Linked DNA regions of Homo sapiens: all the other regions are reported to be linked to region 1. Evidence: microRNA targets listed by miRTarBase, many of them from high-throughput screens and not tested one by one. Region 1 holds a microRNA gene; each other region holds the end of a gene's coding sequence. Distances are from middle to middle.

Evidence for each region. Region 1 holds the annotated microRNA hsa-miR-1295a (UUAGGCCGCAGAUCUGGGUGA, at 1,084-1,104, shown strand). A microRNA usually pairs through its seed, bases 2 to 8, with sites in the 3' UTR of a target mRNA and lowers its output. Matches are read on the target gene's strand: a 7mer-m8 pairs with bases 2 to 8, a 7mer-A1 pairs with bases 2 to 7 and ends in A, and an 8mer does both.
Region 2: miRTarBase lists GJB2 as a target of hsa-miR-1295a. Seed matches in the 3' UTR shown: 7mer-A1 at 3,518-3,524.
Region 3: the mRNA of NT5C1A is a reported target of hsa-miR-1295a. Seed matches in the 3' UTR shown: 7mer-A1 at 836-842.

Annotation. Positions count from the first base shown.
Region 1 is chr1:171,098,691-171,102,841 of GRCh38, reverse strand. It overlaps MIR1295A (microRNA 1295a), which reads left to right and starts at 1,036; the gene lies at 1,036-1,114. The region is part of intron 2 of FMO3 (flavin containing dimethylaniline monoxygenase 3); the gene reads right to left. MIR1295B (microRNA 1295b) reads right to left here and starts at 1,103; the gene lies at 1,044-1,103.
Region 2 is chr13:20,185,175-20,189,174 of GRCh38, forward strand. It overlaps GJB2 (gap junction protein beta 2), which reads right to left. Exons shown (of 2, transcript NM_004004.6): 2 at 2,296-4,000. The coding sequence ends at 3,727. LOC107984553 (a long non-coding RNA gene) reads right to left here and starts at 1,017. Exons shown (of 3, transcript XR_001749956.2): 1 at 278-1,017.
Region 3 is chr1:39,655,411-39,659,410 of GRCh38, forward strand. NT5C1A (5'-nucleotidase, cytosolic IA) reads right to left here. Exons shown (of 6, transcript NM_032526.3): 6 at 1-4,000. The coding sequence ends at 3,711. Among named protein-coding and RNA genes, the nearest start is that of NT5C1A, 15 kb to the right of the region's middle. RefSeq lists enhancers at 2,646-2,715, 2,667-2,961.

The sequences.
Region 1 (4,151 bases):
GGAATTATAGAACTATGCTAATAAAGCCTTAGAGGAAATGTTAAGTGATGATGAATAAAGAAAAAGAACATTGAAGAAAGAATGATCAGTAATGAGAAGTTTAGGATATTGTGTTGTGGTTCTTTAGCCACACACTGAAATAAACTGGGAGCTTTAAAAAACACACTGAGCATTAGGTCCCACTCTCAGAGAATTTGATTTAATTGACAGCAAGTTTTAAAAGCTCTTCAGGTAATTTTAAGGTGCAGCCAAGTTTGTCAGTCACAATGTAGAGTTCAACAAATGGAAGCTCATGACCAACAGGCTACAGTTACTGTGGAAGAGCTTACCATAGGACACATCTGTTACAGCTGTGAGCTCTGCAAAGCAAGCTGTTGAATGAATAAAAGGCATTAAGTTAAAAAAAAATACTGGTTGGAGCATGATTAGGAAGAGGTGGAGCCTTGGTTTAGCTCTGTTGAAGCATCAAGGTACTTATATCTCAAGTTTCATGATGAAAGATCAGATTGTAGATCTCTATGTGTAGTTGCTAGTTCATAGTGGAAAGTACTGAGCACTAGAAACTTCTAATTAGAGCTCATCTAACTGAAAGTTGTCAGGGCTCCCAGAACATGAAATTTTAGTATAATATTGGAATATTACAATCACGTCAAAAGCCAATGTGGCTGCAGTTTCATTATTGACAAATAATTAATTGGCAGATTAGTTGCCATGTTCATTTCAGAAAGCAGCGTGTTCTTTAAATAGGACATGAGTTTTCTGCTGCTCACATGGTTTGTTGACTCTGCTATAGGCATGTGGGATGGGGAAGTGCAAAAATTTGTAGCTTTCTGTGAGTTGGGTAAGTTTAAAGAGATGATAATCAGCATAAAGAGAGAAGAAACATTAAAGAAAAAAATTGATACATAGTCCAGAAAAAAATCAGAGGAAGTTAAAAAAGGGAGGTATTCCCAGAAGAAAGCCACTATTCATAAAACTTCATGCAAAAATTCATATGATTTACTGATTTATTGTTTGGGGAGCTCCTGAGAAAAGAGGACATTTTGCCCAGATCCGTGGCCTATTCAGAAATGTGGCCTGTGATTAGGCCGCAGATCTGGGTGAAATGTCCTCCTTCTGTGACCAAAGAAGGTGAGGGAAATACATCATCGTGGCTCTAGATCAGGGTTAGAAGTCAGAACTAGAAGGGCATAGAAAGTGCTGTAGTAAACAGCTCCAACAGTTTCAACTATATGCACCCTTAGTGTTAGCTAAGTTTTAACCAATGTTTGGATCTCTCTGAAATTTAAAAAAAGTTAAGATAATGTAAAATGATGATGTTAGAAACCAAAGGGAAGGCAAATACAAAATTAGAACAATTTTATAACAATCTTATAATGTGAATACTAAGCCTATTGCTGCAGACTTCTAGTGATCTGAGAAACACTGCTGTTTGCTCCATCATTTGCAATCTATAAGCCCCCTCACAGTAGTAAAATAGGAAACGCTGAAAAACCAAAGGTATTAGTTTCTTGTGGCTGCTGTAATAAATTACCACAAAGTTAATGGCTTAAAATAATAGCAATTGATTCACAGTTCTAGAAGTCAGCAGTCGGGAATCACTATCAGTAGGCTGAAAACGAAGTGTGACAGTACCATGTTCATTTTCAGAGGCTCCAGGAGAGAATCCATTCCTTGCCGCTTCTGGCTTCTGGTGGATGCTGGCATTTCTTATTTTTTTCAGTGGCAAGACCCCTCTTGTACGCCTTCACTCATGGCTCCTCTGGCCATCATCAAAGATAGAGCATAGCATCTTCAAATTTCTCTCTTTCTGTTGAGGTCATCACATCACCTTCTCTCTTCTCTTTGTGTTAAATCTCCCTCTGCCTCTCTCTTTTAACGATGCATTCATTATAGCGTTTGGGGCTCACCCACATAATGCAGAAAAATCTCTCCATCTTAAGATTTTTAACTTAATTATATTTGCAAATACCCTTTTCTCTTGTAAGTAAGATAACATTTACAGGTTCCAGGAATTTGGATGTGATATCTTTGAGGAGGGGCATTGTTAAATTGTTCAGCCTATTACAGGCCATCCTCTGGTTCCCAAGGATTCACATCCATCCCATCTGCAAAATACATTAACCCAATCCCAACATCCTCAAAGTCTCAACCCATAGCAGCATGAAATCAAGTCTCAACTCTCATTTATATATTTTCAATTCAAAAGTCCAAAATCTCATCATCATATAAATTATCTAAATCAGGTATAAATGAGACTCTGGATATGGACCAGGATGAGGCAAAATTTCTATCTGTGAACCTGTGAAACTAGAAAACAAGTTATCTTCTTCCAAAATACAATGGTGGGACAAGCATGGGTAACCGTTATCGACATTCCCATTTAACCGGGGAGGAAAAAGGAGGAAAGAAAAGAATCACTAATCCCAAGCAATTTTGAAATCCAGTAGGACAAATTCCTTCAGGCTTGAAGGCTTTGGCTCAGGCCTCTGCCCTCAGGGCCTGAGGCTCTACCCTCTGGGCTATCCTTTCTTTTTCTTGAAGGGTAGCACATGTTGCAGTTCAGTTTTATCAACCTATGCTGCCAGGTTCAAATTTTAAAGTCTTCCTCGAGCAGCAAGAAAAGACAAATTAGCTGTCTTTGGCTGTGTTCCTCTCAATAGCCATATCAGCAGTGCGTTCTATCTTCAGCAACGTCTTGCAAACTAAATTTGAGTATGAGGCTTTGGTTAAGATCACTGTGTATAAGATATGGCTGGCCAGGAGTGGTGGCTCATGCCTATAATTCCAGCACTTTGGGAGGCCGAGGCGGGTGTATCACCTGATGTCAGGAGTTCGAGACCAGCCTGGCCAACATGGCGAAACCCCATCTCTACTAAAAATACAAAAATTAGCGGGGCGTGATGGCACACACCTGTAATCCCAACTATTCGGGAGGCTGAGGCAGGAGAATCCCTTGATCCCAGGAGGTGGAGGTTGTAGTGAGCTCAGATTGTGCCATTGCACTCCAGCCTGGGCAACAAGAGAGAAACTCTGTCTAAAAAAAAAGAAGAAGAAAAAAGAAAAAAAAAAAAAAAAAAAAGAAAGACATGGTCAGCTCGATAGGCCACTTGGTGAAATGGCAACCAGCAATTTACAAAGGAGTTAAGAATAGACTAGAGAGAAAGGCAAGCTTGAATTGGGATCTTTTCTCCACCATTATCAGCTGTATGATTTTTTTTCTTTTCTTTTAAAGCTTCAAATTCATTTGTAAAAGGAAAAAAAATATACCTAGCTTATAGGATTACTATAAATATTTAATTAAATAGAAAAAGTCATGTGTCATATAGAAAGTGCTTGATAAAATAGCCCTAAGTTTGGCCACAAAGAAACAAAAATAACAACAACCAAAAAGCCCTAAGAATCACCAGTGTGTTAATCTGAAGCCCTGTCAACACATTTTAATAACATACAGTAGGCTCCACAACATTGTATAAGATGTTGGGGGGTTTCACACCACACCTAATCCAAAATTGACCACATAGTTGGAAGTAAAGCACTCCTCAGCAAATGTAAAAGAACAGAAATTATAACAAACTGTCTCTCAGACCACAGTGCAATCAAACTAGAACTCAGGATTAAGAAACTCATTCAAAACCGCTCAACTACGTGGAAACTGAACAACCTTCTCCTGAATGACTACTGGGTACATAATGAAATGAAGGCGGAAATAAAGATGTTCTTTGAAACCAACGAGAACAAAGACACAGCATACCAGAATCTCTGGGACACATTTAAAGCAGTGTGTAGAGGGAAATTGATAGCACTAAATGCCCACAAGAGAAAGCAGGAAAGATCTAAAATTGACACCCTAACATCACAATTAAAAGAACTAGAGAAGATATATCTCAAAATAATAAGAGCTGTTTATGACAAACCCACAGCCAATATCATACTGAATGGGCAAAAACTGGAGGCATTCCCTCTGAAAACTGGCACAAGACAGGGATGCCCTCTCACACCACTCCTATTCAACATAGTGTTGGAAGTTCTGGCCAGGGAAATCAGGCAGGAGAAAGAAATAAAGCATGTTCAATTAGGAAAAGAGGAAGTCAAATTGTCCTTGTTTGCAGATGACATGATTGTATATCTAGAAAACCCCATCGTCTCAG
Region 2 (4,000 bases), not on the chromosome of region 1:
CTGAGCAGTGCCTTCCTGTTGCCCTCAGCAAGAATAACACTAACAGCCTAGGACTTCAGAGCACTGCTGCGAGGTGCAAATGAGGTGATATGGGAAAAGCATTTGGTGAGATGTATGGAAAGTGTAGAGACCCTGACCAGATGAGTCAATGGCCTTCTTCGTTACTCTGTTGACCTTTCTTTAATTACAGAGTCGCATAGCTGTCACCACCTTATCCTTTTTTGCTGCTATATTTGCCCCCAGCCATTCCTCTCCCGGCTTATGTGGCTAGACTCACCTGCCTGTGCTGCAGTTACTCCAGGCTTTGTGTAAATGTGCATTTTTTTCCAGCCCCCAGTTTATCAAGCTTTGCTTGAGTCACTTGTATCTGAAATACCATCTGTCACTCTTCCAGGTTGGGATCTGTCTAGTGGAAAACAGATGACAGTCATATGTTACTTAGTGCTTTACTATGTGGAGAACGTTTACATAAATTATCTTATTTCATTGCCACTAAGCCGGGGAAAGATTCAGGAAACCCATTTTAAGATGAGGACACTGAGGTCAGGGTAAGTGAGTGAGCTTTTACCCACCTCTCAGCTGCTCTCTAGTTGTCAAAGACCAACCCGTGGGGGTGGCTCAGGCCCGACCCCTGCAGCATATTCCTTGGGGCCTCCCAAGTGGGCCCGATCTGCTCACCCCAGCTGTGACTGTCTTTTGACAGGAGGAGGGAGCAGCGAGGCTGCACCCACTGCTCATAAAAAGCAGAGCTTGTCCACGCCGAGGGCTCGGCTGGGTGGGAGGCCGCTTCCACAAGGCTTTTTCTTGCTCCATACAAAGTGCAGACTGATGCTTTGAGATATAGTCAGGATTATCATTTTCAGAGCTCAAGCTCTAATTTCCAGGCATGTGACCAGACCTCTCTATCCATTCCTACAAGTGGTCGAGAGTAGCCCATAATTATTTTGGCTTGGTCTTTTAATAGCTTGAGAGTAATAATCTACATAGCTTGTAGAAGTGAATGTACTTATTTTAAAAGTTCTGTGTTTTTTGATGTTGTTGTTGTTTGGGACAGGATCTTGCTGTCGCCTAGGCTGGAGTGCAGTGGCACAATCTCAGCTCACTGCAGCATGGACCTCCCAGGTTCAAGCAATCTTCCCACCTCAGCCTCCTGAGTAGCTGAGACTACAGGCACATGTTACCACGCCTGCCTGGCTAACATTTTTATTTTTTATAGAAACAATGTCTCCCTATATTGCCCAGGCTGGTTTTGAACTCCTGGGCTCAAGTGATCCTCTCGTCTCAGCCTCCCAAAGTGTTGGGATTATAGGTATAAGCCTCTGCACCCAGCTTAAAAAATCCTATTTTCACAGTCTATGTGCAGAGCATTTTGGAAGTCAGGTAGAAACCATTTCCCATTTTCTATTACCTGGGTGATAGTTGACTGGTTTTTGTTCTTTGAAATCCATTTTAAAAGTGTATGGTCCTCTATGAAAATACTTCTAATTATTGATGTGTGAAATGCTTTGAAATCCTTGGATGGAAATCTTGTACCATGAAAGAACAGAACTGTTGGTGGTGTCTCTGGGAGAGGCTCACGAGGGCCGGGCAAGCCTGTGGGGGTAGCAGGCAGTCACTCCCATGGGGACAGGCTGACCTGGCAGGCTTATTTCCCATGGAAGTGGGCACTGAGGAATAAAAAGCAGTTTCAGGCCAGGTGCGGTGGCCCATGCCTGTAATCCTTGCACTTTAGGAGACTGAGGCAGGGGGATCCCTTCAGCCCAGGAGTTCGAGACCAGACTGGGCAATATAGTGGGACCTCGTTTCTACAAAAAATGAAAAAATTAGTGGAGTGTGGTGGCACACTCCAGTGGTCCCAGCTACTTGGGACGCTGAGGTGGGAGGATCGCTTGAGCCTGGGAGGCAGAGGTTGCAGTGAGCCAAGGTCATGCTATGAGTAACATTTTGAAGGTCCACTTCTGGGATTCATCCAGGAGCTAAACGGGTCATGTCCAGCCAACTCAGCATTCACCAAGGTACGTTTCCAGACCAAACACCACATTGTCCATAGACTGATATGCCTCAAAAACCTGGTAGAGGTGGGCACGGGGTTAGGTAGAAATCATCTTCCTCCCTTCCTTCCCCACCAAACTTTCTGGTGACAGAAGCTTTTCTGTAACTGGGGCAGAATGGGGTCAGACACTCTGGCAACTTACCCATTGGTGTTATGAAATATAAAACATTAATGTATTTATATAAAAAGTGATAGATGAAATTAAAATTTGCTGTTCTATTAAAACCATATTAGATTTTAAATTATTATAGAGATTATATTTTAATGTTTTAAATGTATTTGATACATTACAAAATTATTTTAGTTACAAGCATATCATTAAAGCTATTCTTTATTATTACAAAATGCTTTTACAATGCTATTCTTGACAACAGGAAAATACTTACCCTCACTGAAATATGTGGAGTACCATTTTTTGGAAACCATGTCAAGCATAATGGCAATATTCAGGTTCAATCTTCCTATAGATCTGCTCAATATTTATCTAAACCTTAGCTTCTATTCTTTTCACATGTTATTAGCTATATTTTCACTTAAAAAATTGGAGGCTGAAGGGGTAAGCAAACAAACTTTTGAAGTAGACAAAGCTCATCTTTAATCAACAGACTTTAGAGTCCAGTCTTTCCAAATCTGTTTTTAACGACAGAAACTTCTCCCTCCCCTGCCCCATTTTGTCCTCCCCATTAAATGGTACTGTGTCAATAAAATTCCCAAGCGACCTCTTTAAATCAGCGTTCTTTCCGATGCTGGCTACCACAGTCATGGAAAAGGGAGATGTGTTGGACAGGCCTGTCATTACAGGTAGTAGTTGGTGGTACATCCAGTCTGTATTTCTTACACAAAATTACATCTAAATATTTGACATGAGGCCATTTGCTATCATAAGCCATCACTAGGAACTTCTAGTCTGTCTCACTCGATTGAGGCTACAATGTTGTTAGGTGCTATGACCACAATGAATACAACAGACAGCCTCTCAGCTGTGCTGCAAAGTATTCATAACCAAAAGACCATATTTCAAATTAAATCATAGTAGCGAATGACATACCATTTACATATTACAATCTGAGCCTCTGAAACAGGGGGAACATATAATGGTATCCAGAACATCTTTACATCAAAATAACCTATCATACTACAAAGTTTTCACTTCCAAAAAGTGTAACAGAGTTTAAGGCACTGGTAACTTTGTCCACTGTTAGAGATTAAAACTTCCAAAGCAAATGAAAGAACCAATGTTCACCTTTAACGTGGGGAAAGTTGGCAAAAAGAACCCCAGGAGGACACCCAAACCTTCTCTGTGTCCTCTGTGGAACCTGGCTTTTTTCTCTTGTCCTCAGAGAAAGAAACAAATGCCGATATCCTCTGTTTAAAATATGAAAGTACCTTACACCAATAACCCCTAACAGCCTGGGGTCTCAGTGGAACTAACTTAAGTGAAAGAAAATTAAGACAGGCATAGAATTAGGCCTTTGTTTTGAGGCTTTAGGGGAGCAGAGCTCCATTGTGGCATCTGGAGTTTCACCTGAGGCCTACAGGGGTTTCAAATGGTTGCATTTAAGGTCAGAATCTTTGTGTTGGGAAATGCTAGCGACTGAGCCTTGACAGCTGAGCACGGGTTGCCTCATCCCTCTCATGCTGTCTATTTCTTAATCTAACAACTGGGCAATGCGTTAAACTGGCTTTTTTGACTTCCCAGAACAATATCTAATTAGCAAATAACACAATTCAGTGACATTCAGCAGGATGCAAATTCCAGACACTGCAATCATGAACACTGTGAAGACAGTCTTCTCCGTGGGCCGGGACACAAAGCAGTCCACAGTGTTGGGACAAGGCCAGGCGTTGCACTTCACCAGCCGCTGCATGGAGAAGCCGTCGTACATGACATAGAAGACGTACATGAAGGCGGCTTCGAAGATGACCCGGAAGAAGATGCTGCTTGTG
Region 3 (4,000 bases), 130 Mb from region 1:
AATTATTTGTAGGTGTTTAGGAAGCTATAATAAAAGCATGCACTCAAATGTATTCCAGCATTTCACCATGCAGGAAATCAACATATTAACTGTCAGGTAAGTAAACTCCTTTAGTGAAGACCTCAGAATGGAGCTTCTCTGGCTATCTCCATGCATATGTATGAGCAGTATGACAAAATGGTTGAAAACCTGGGTCCTAGAATCAGATGGACATGAGTTTGAGTCCCAGCACTGCCACTTACTAGCTCTATGGCTTTGGACAAGTTACTTTGCCTCCCTAAACCAGCATGGCCAGGACACCACAAAACAGAGTAGACACTGGCCATAGTGCCGCTGCAGCCTCCTAGAGGCTGCATTGTGGGAAAATGGAGCGCTCACAGTGGAAAGGTCAGCTGAGGCCACGAGGAGACATTCAGGGGACTCAGCGCAGCATTATCTACCAACTGCTATGGAGGTATTTCAAGTTTTAGTCATCAGTTTGGCTGTACTGGTGCACACCAATTGAGTGTCATTATAATGCCAAATCCATCTTGGCTTTGAACTTCTTGCTAGTTTCTATTTTTTTCTGGCACATTCTGATATATCCCCACTACTCTGATTGGGCTCTCAGATAGGAGAGGGGGATGTTTTGCAACTGGCTGAGCAGTCTCAGTGCTTAGTAACAGGGCTTCCATTTTTCTGCTAAGCAGCAGTCCCATTGGCTCTGGGATTTTGCTGGCAGGCATCTCCTGGAACCAGTGTTCTGCAGGGCTTGTTGGGGAAGTGGTGCTCTCAGCTAAAGGGGTCCAGTGTTTCAGAAGCCGTGGCTGCTCCACCTCAGTGCTGCATTCCCTGGTTAGGCCTGGGACTTTGGTGTTCACCTGGCTTTTTAATTTACTGGTGAACAACACTCAATGTTCCTCATCCCTGGGCACCTCCTCACCTCTAAGACAATCAGAAGGCCCGTGTAACTGCTGCCTAAGACTGCCCCTCAGATTTCTGGCTTTTTATTCCAGTGACTGAAAGCTTTTTTCCAGGCCTGAGATGCTCATTTGTGATTTCAATAATAGAATTTAGACTCTTAGTGTTTCTCCATTGCCCAGGGCTGTCTGTGTCTATTAATGATGGCTCCAGTGAAATCCATGGCTTTTACTGCACCTTATCTTTCTGCTTCCAGCATCATATTTTCCTGCTTCCTGAGAGACATGGAATCATCAGTGGTGTTCATCACCAGGCCCTGGGGGCAAGACCACACAGGTCCCAGAATCCCTGCAGTTTTTCTTAATTAGGTGACATCTGGTGCCGTCCCCAGTGCACAGGTCCACCCTGGTCAGTCAGCCTGTTGCCATGCTGTGAGCCTGGGCTGTGCCCGGCCTTGTAGGCTTCTTGCAGTCACTGGTTCTGTGAGCCTTGGAGGCTCTTCCACGGGGGTGATTCTGACCCCTGGGAGTGAGAAGGAGAGGGCCTTTCTGCAGTTCAGCCAAGAATAAAGGAGACTCAGGGCTGAGCTCCCTCCTTCACTTCTTTTTTGTTTCCTTGAGGTTGTTCTTGGCCCTCACAGTACCTCTGTCTAGGCTTGGAGCTCTGGAAGTAGACACAACCCGGGTCTTCTGCCCCAAGGCCTCCTCTGTTAGCCAGAAGGATCCTGGCTGTGCAGTGGAAATGACCTCGTGCAAAGACATTATCATATGCCCTTCCAGGGGCAATAATGCCAGTGTCCCCTGATAAAGCAGTCACTGTGGGTATCTGTCCCAGTCACTCCACACAGCCATACCCTTCCTCCCTGGGACCAGCCTCATGGAGACCTCTGACAATGACAGTAAAAACTCAGCCCAGCCTTTCTCTTCTGGCCCAAATCGTTGCTCATTTGAGAACCGTCTCTGCCTTCTCACTTTGTTCTCCTTCCTGGAATATCTTTCTGCATCTCTTACCCTGCCCCACACTGCACAGAACCTGTGCCCTTTCAGACCCTGAGCTGAGTCCCCAGAAGGACAAAGATCAAAAACCCCAGGGTGTTCTCTTCCCCTATTTCCTACCACCACATCTCCAGGCTTCTGCCCCTCTCATGATACTTTTGGTTTTCTTTACAAAGTGCTTGCTCATGACTAGGATTCCTCCTAGAAGCCTGGCAATCAGTCCACACACAGATGTCTGCTCACCCCTTCTGTCTCCCTGGGGACCAGCCATTGGTGCTTCCACCCTCCCTCTGGAGAGAGCCAGGGATGCTCAGCAAAGGAGGAGGCTGACTCATCAAGCGGTGAGAGTTCTCCTCTGAAAGTGGTGAAGAAGGGGCCGCAGGGGCTCTTGCAAATGTGGAGGATCCGCTGATGCATTTCATGGGGAGGTTATCTCATCCTGGAAGCCCTTGCTCAGCATCCACTGATGGAGAGCTCATTACCTCCAAAGGCAGCTCTGACTGGCTTTCCACTAACAATCCCATAGCTGGAGAATTTTGCTAGTGCACATTTCAGCTCCTTCCTCTCCAAGCATCACTGTCTCAGTACCTTCTGTCTCACACCAGACCTCCTGACACTTCCCACTTCACCCCAGGCAGCACCTCACCCTGGGGCTCAGCCTGGACAACCGCCTACCTCAGCCACTGCACTTTCTTCCCCTAGAATTGAGGCCACAACAGTAGACACCCATGCTCTGTCCCGTTCCCCACCAGCAGAGCTGCTCAACAGGATGCAATAACTGGAGGAATGAGGGTGGTGGAAGTGAGGGTCTTGGCAGGCAAGAGCAACTGAACTTCGGCTCAAAGCAAGAGCAAAGGAAACACTGAGCAGGCAGCTACTAATGCTTCTCCCGGGAAGAGCCTGCAGTGCCCCCTGCTGGCTGGAGGAGAGTTTGTATGCGTGTCCAATTCACTCCCCTTGCTTCCTGGGCTGAGCCCTGATGACCATTCAGGTTAGAGAATCACATGAGCAGATAGGTCATCTTGTCCAGTGGTTTCAAAATGTGTAAAATTATAGATAGAGTTGCTGGGGGCGATTTTGCATTTTGTCCATTTGAGAAAGGCCTCTGAGCTGAGGGGACACATGGGGGCTGAAATCCAGCCTCTATCCTGCTAACTAAGCTGTGTACCCCACTATGGGACTGGGTCAGGCCAGAGGAAGGGATGTCTTTTTGTTCTTCATTCACCTAGACAGTGTCCTTTTGTAATTTGCACAAAGGTGCCATACATACCAGCAGCAGCACTGACACAGAATGCTTCCTTCTAAGAGGGCGATCTTAAAGAACCAAGCTTCTTTGGCTAAAAGGGAGCTTGAAAACTGCCCAAAAGATGGGGAAACTGGGGGCCATGAAGGGGAGGGATTACTCAAAGTCATGCAGTTAATACCAGGACAGAGCTTAGAAGCCAGATCCACTCTCTCCCATAGCAGTGTTGTTTACACCACATTGAGCTAGTTTTCATCCTAAGTCACTATTGAGAAATCCTGGCTTCTCTGACCCTCCCCCTCTCAGACCCATTAACTTCCCCCCTGAAATCCAGCTACTCTGCACAGTCCTACTCTCCTACTCAGGATCATGGCACAGAATTTGCCCCAAAGGAGGGATGTTGAGAATGCCAGACCCGTCTGCATAATTTCCTACAAGTACATCACTCATAGGGATGAGGGCAGACAGGCAGAAGGACAGAACAGTGAGAAACTAGAGGGATCTACCAGAGGAGGTGTCGAAGTATGTCAGGGAGCCTGGAGCAATGTGGATCAGTAAAGCCGGTGGTTCAGCTACTGTGCAGATGGGGCCTGCTTTGCAGGTGCAGTCCGCCGGGGTGTCTGTGCCACACCATAAGGCACATGGGCGGCCACAGTGCCCATCTCCTGAGCCCCAGCCACATGGAACATCTGGTCATCAAAGAAGATGTGTGGGCGGATCTTCTCAAGGAGAGGGCCCTTGGGCGCTCCAGCAAGGAACAAGGCTTCATCTGTCTCCAGGCCCCAGCTGCGCAGGGTCTTGAGAGCCCGGGCCCCGGAACTGGCTGCACTGCGTGCTGTCACCAAGTAGGTACGAATTGGGC